Linked DNA regions of Homo sapiens: region 1 is linked to region 2. The links come from fine-mapping of genetic effects on gene expression. A gene starts in region 2. The other region holds a variant in brackets. All regions are shown on one strand. Distances are between the middles of the regions. Region 1 overlaps DENND4C (DENN domain containing 4C). Region 2 holds the start of DENND4C (DENN domain containing 4C).

Region 1 (2,909 bases), 100 kb after region 2:
TATGGGATAGTCCCCTAAATCCTAGAGATATCCTGAGGTATTTCCTAATTTCATACAGTTCATATTTCTTTCAATGTTGTCTGAAGAGAATACTAAAGAATTTTTTTTTACTGTTACCAGCTAACAAAAGGCAAATTTCTAAAACGAGAAAATTTTGCTAACTCAGCCTCTAAATCTCATTTATAGCAGAATTTTTTTTTTCAGGCTAACTGGAAAAGAAAAGAACCATAGGATCTTAGAAAAACAAGGGCATGTATTTTTAAATATGTACTGAAGTGTCATGGAGATCGAGCTCAAAAGTAAAATTAATATACCAAGTTGGTTTTTTTTTTTTTTTTTTTTTTTTAAGATGGAGTCTCACTCTGTCATCCAGGCTGGAGTGCAGTGGCACGATTTCGGCTCACTGCAACCTCTGCCTCCCAGGTTCAAGCGATTCTCCTGCCTCAGCCTCCTGAATAGCTGGGATTACAGGCGCCCACCAACACGCCCAACTAATTTTTGTATTTTTAGTAGAGACAGGGCTTTACCATGTTGGCCAGGATGATCTCGATCTCTTGACCTTGTGATCCACCTGCCTCGGCCTCCCAAAGTGCTGGGATTATATACATGAGCTACCATGCCCAGCCCCAAGATTTTTTTATTTAGAACATAGACTAGCAAGGAATCTTCAGTGCAGAGCATAAAATGGCATTCTGATATATGTGATAGGTTCTGTAGTTTCTGGGAATATATATAGTTTGGTAAAGCTCAGCAGATGGCTGGGCACGGCAGCTCACGTCTATAATCCCAGCACTTTGGGAGGCTGAGGTGGGCAGATCACCTGAGGTCAGGAGTTCTAGACCAGTCTGGCCAACATGGTGAAACTCTGTCTCTACTAAAAATCTGCACAAAAAAATTAGCTGGGCATGGTGGTGGGTGCCTGTAATCCCAGCTACTCAGGAGGCTGAGGCAGGAGAATCACTTGAACCCGGGAGGCAGTGGTTGCGGTGAGCTGAGATCACGCCATTGCACTCCAGCCTTGGCGACAAAAGCAAGACTCTGTCTTAAAAAAAAATAACAAAGAAAACACCAAAACTCACCAGATGATTTTGATACCTAATTTTCTCTTCTACCTAAATCTGAATGAAAACCAGAACTAGAAAACATGACTATCAAACTATTAGGAAAGTTTATGTTGACTGCAAAGGAATAGGTCCTTTTTTTTTTTTTTGAGATGGAGTATCGCTCTGTCGCCAGGCTGGAGTGCAGTGGCACAATCTCAGCTCACTGCAACTTCCCACTCCCTGGTTCAAGCAATTCTCCTGCCTCAAACTCCCGAGTAGCTGGGACCACAGGCACATGCCACCATGCGCGGCTAATTTTTGTATTTTTAGTAGAGACTGGGTTTCACCATGTTGGCCAGGCTGGTCTTGATCTCCTGACCTCGTGATCCATCTGCCTTGGCCTCCCAAAGTGCTAGGATTACAGGCATAAGCCACTGCACCTGGCCAGAAACAGGTCTTTTTTAAGGAGTCTGTCAGTGAGGGAGTTAACATAGACTGTAGCTTGGGAAGACAGAGTGGAAATCTTGGCAGGAGATAGCCTAGAGCATCTTAAACTTTAGTGAAGAGAAGAGTGAGAGGAATATCACTTTTTCACCCATCAAAAATGAGTTCCTTCTTTGTAAAAGACATGAGCCATTCTATTACAAAAAGATGAATGATCTTTGCTCTTAATTTCTACTCTGTTAAGAGACACATGCTTGCTAACAAATAGATTTGGTATAGTATGAAGTATTACTGTAAATGAATGTTCAGGGGAACCATTAACACTGATAAGCAGGAAG[C/T]CACTCACAAAAGTCAACTTTGAAGTGCTTGATTTTAGGGGGTCAAGTTTTACTTAAATTCTCCTCTCCCTTTTCCTTCTCACTTCTCCCCTCACCCTAATGAATTTTAGTAAATATCATAATATTTTATTCTCTTTCTAGGAAATAAAAACAGCTCATAAATTGGCGAAGAGATGTTATACAAATCCACCACAGTGGGCCAAGTGTCTGTTTAGTCATTGTTACAGTTTATGGTTTATTTGTCTTCCGGCCTATGTTAGAGTTTCTCATCCTAAAGTCAGAGCACTTCAGCAGGCATATGATGTACTTATTAAGATGAGGAAAACAGATGTGGATCCCTTAGATGAGGCAAGTATAACAAATTGACATTGTTTCTAAGGTAAATTTTATTTTTGTACTTCTAATAAAATTTGGGTGTAAGTTGCTTTAAAGTGTGCTCAAGCATTTTCATTAAGCAGGAAAGGTAAAACTATTACTGTTTCATGGAGCTGGTGCATATTACTTGTTTATTTTTTATTTTAATTATTGATTTGTTTTTGTGACAGAGTCTCACTCTGTCACCCAGGCTGGAGTTCAGCAGTGCGTCCTTGGCTCCCTGCAACCTCTGCCTCCCGGGTTCAGACAGTTCTTGTGCCTCCCGAGTAGCTGGAATTACAGGCACATGTTACCATACCTGGCTAATTTTTTTTTTTTTTTTTTTGTATTTTTAATAGAGATGGGGTCTCACCGTGTTGGCCAGGCTGGTCTCAAACTCCTGGCCTCAAGTGATCTGCCTGCCTCAGCTTTCAGTGCTGGGATTACAGGCATGAGCCATCACATCCGGCCATGTTTGTTTATTTTTAAAGAGATGGAGTCTCACTCCTCTCTCGCCCAGGCTGGAGTGCGGTTGTGTGATCATGGCACCTGGCATATGGTTTTTCTGTTTTTGATTTTTTTTTTTTTTTTTTTTAAGGGATGGAGTCTCACTTTGTTTCCCAGGCTGGTCTTGAACTCCTGGCTCTTGAACCCCCACCTTGGCCTCCCAAAGTGCAGGGATTACAGGCATGAGCCACTGTGGCTGGCTTCATTTTATTCTTAATATAAC
Region 2 (2,909 bases):
AACTCTCGACCTCAGGTGATCCGCCCGCCTCAGCCTCCCAAAGTGCTGGGATTACAGACGTGAACCACCGCGTCCGGCCCACAAGCTAAATTTTGAAGTATTAGATCCTTTCTTAAACTTTTGCTCTTCGGATTGTCAATGTCAAAGATAGTTTCCAGGGGGACCAAATTGGCCCCAAACTGTTATTAAATAAGCCTTAACTTTTATTGCTGCGCATTTCTTCTGAAATCAATTCTGACTGCTTACGTGGTTAGAAAAATAGTTTCTGCTATTGAATATAAAACTCAAATTATCCATGGCTATGCAATAAACTTCAGAAATAAATGGACAGCAGTGCATTTATGACCCAGGTATAATCTCACATTTTTATGCAAAAATACAGATTAAATAAGGAGAGTGTAATTTTCAGGAAAATGATTATTTATGTGGATACTCACCAGATATGCAGAAATCTTACCAGTTCTGATTTTGACCTGCCATGGAATCTGAAGTCATTCGCCTTTTTTTCCCCCCAGAGGTAAAAAAGTTATCTCTACTTCAAACCATTTCCTTCTTCCTAAATAACTAGTAATTGCTTTTTCATTTACTATGATAACTCAAAAACGTTGTTCAAAAATATCCTGCAAAATTTGCATTATAGAGAAACGACTCTGCAGGCGTCTGTGTCGATAATGAGGCTACACTTAGGAGGCGTGAGGGTACTGACTATGCAAATGAGCGATTTCTCCATTAGGAATTCCCATCCCCAAATCTGGGCCGAAGGAGAGACACCGAGCGCGGCCAGGGACTCACATGGTGCACTGGAGCCAAGGGGTTTCGGGAAGGGCCAGCGCGCGGGTCTCTCTAGAGCCCTCTACTCATGCGTGGGAATTCCAGATTCCTTCCCTGGGAAGGAATCTTCACGTATCTCCCGGCACTGTCCTCAGTGACCTTCAGCCACTCGGCATCACTTTCCCTGTCTTTGAAAACTCCGAGAGAAGCAGCCGCCACCTGCCTCAGGCCAAGGCAATAAACCCACATCACACCGCCAGTCTGAGCCCTGCAGGAAGGGGTGCACAGCGGCCTCCAGAGCGCTTTCTCCCCAGCTCTGTTTCTGCAGGCTCGGCCGCGCGAACGCTGAGGAGGGGATCGGAGGCCCGCAAGGCTCAGACCCCGCGCCCCGCGGGGGTCGCACAGGGGTCGGGCGGGGGAGGGGAGCGGTGGCTGCAGGGCCTCGGCCCTCCCCGGGGGAGGGGCCTGAGCACCGCACCGCCCCCCTCCTCCCTGCGTCTTCTCCCTCCCACCCCCCGCCCTTTTCCACCCGCCCCCGCAGGAGGAAAGGGAGAGGGAGGGGGAAAAGAAAGTGCTGTTTTGTGGAAAGGGGCGGAAGGCGGGGGAGAAAAAGGGAACAGAAACATGGCGGTCAGGTCTTGGGACGGCTGCGCCGCGGGCAGCTCCTAGGCGACGCGCCGCCCGCACTGTCCGACGGCTCACAGCGCGGAGGCACCCGCGCGGGCCAGCGCTCCGGCCATCGCCCCTGGCTGTAGGCGGCGCCCCTCGGAGACCCTGCCCGCGAGGCGGCGCAGGCGCAGACCGGACTGAGGCGGCGGCGGCCGCTGGAGCTAGTCCCCCGCCCTGCCCTGCCGAGCGCGCCCAGTCCGCGAATCCGGTGCTTTCTTGCCCCAGGAAGAAGCCGTGTCGGGGCTGCGCTGACAGAGGAGCAGGCAGCAGGTGAGGCTGCGGCGCGGGGCCTTTGGCGGAGGAAGCCTGCGCCGTGCCCTCGCGGGGCCTGCGCTGCAAGGCTGGGAGGGCGCGGGACAGGTAGAGCCCGGAGGGCTGAGTTCCGAGTGGCTGGCCCGCGGGGGGTCGCCGAGGAGGCGGAGAGTGGCCGCGGCTGGCGTTCGTGGCCTAGTTTCTCCGCGGTTTCCGGGGGCGGGGAGTCCCCGGATCCTGCGGGATGCAGTCGGGGAAAGGCTGCCCCTGAAGAGCCTCCCCGCGTCGCCCGCCGGGCCCATGAGAATCGTTTGCGTACAAGCGCGAGGGGTCTGGGCCCGGGGGACCGCCGGGGCGACGGCCGCTTTGGTGGGGGCCGGGGTGCGGAGGGAGCAGGATCGGGGCTTCCCAGAGGGGGTCGAGGCTGAGAGAGCGGAGAGCTAGAGCCAGGGGTGGCGGGCAGTCTCGAGAGGAGTCGGGGGACTGAGAAGTGTCGGGGACAACGGGGAGGAGGGGGACCTGGGCAGGTGTCTCTGGTGAATTGAAGACATTTCCTTCTCTGTCTTACGGTGGCCGATCCTCAGGGCTTCTTTGTCGGGGATGACTTTCTAGGAGGGCAGTATCCTTTTAACTCTGGAGTGACTAAACACAAAACCAAGGAATGAAGTCCTAAGGCTGACTCCTGTAAAGAGCTGTAACTTTTTCTGTTTTAAGAATGCTGTCACGTCTTTTTTTTTTTCCTCCCCTTTTCTGCTTGATAGACCTTTTCCCTCTCGAAGACCGTCTTTTATCTGCACTAATAAGGAATTACCCAGTTTTTAAATAGTACCGCCTCCTTCTCCCCTTATGTATGTTTGTCACACGGGAAAATTTAGGGTAGTTACCGCGGGTACTTGTGCAAATTTGAGGGAAAGTGTCATTTCCAGTAGTGAACCCTCAGCTGTCTCTTTGTGCCTCCGAGATACTGTCAAGCGTTGTAGCCTGAGAAATTGACCCACTGAGCCTGCTTAATTGTGTGCAAACCCGTGTTGAGGCGTTCTTCCTAGGCCCTAATTTACGTAGGAATAGGTTTTCCCTTCCGGTCTGTGTATAATGAGAGGGGAGAACGTTAGTGCTAAGGCGCTAAGTTCTGGATAAATACTTGATTTGATGTGATAGTGTGTATTACTCTATCAGAAATGCAGAGCGTTGTATGATTTTTCTGTGTACACGCGATA

The links. PIP is the estimated chance that this variant, and not a neighbour inherited with it, causes the effect. A credible set is the group of variants that fine-mapping cannot tell apart.
Region 1: its variant is the best candidate, but not a certain one, in a credible set for the expression of DENND4C in whole blood (TOPMed, PIP 0.62).

What each region holds. Positions count from the first base shown.
Region 1 is chr9:19,330,012-19,332,920 of GRCh38, forward strand. DENND4C (DENN domain containing 4C) reads left to right here. Exons shown (of 33, transcript NM_001330640.2): 17 at 1,967-2,173. Among named protein-coding and RNA genes, the nearest start is that of RPS6, 49 kb to the right of the region's middle. The variant C/T (reference allele first, on the strand shown) is at 1,826.
Region 2 is chr9:19,229,124-19,232,032 of GRCh38, forward strand. It overlaps DENND4C (DENN domain containing 4C), which reads left to right and starts at 1,570. Exons shown (of 33, transcript NM_001330640.2): 1 at 1,570-1,710. RefSeq lists enhancers at 728-977, 1,362-1,868, 1,869-2,374 and silencers at 1,008-1,307, 1,388-1,757, 1,978-2,117.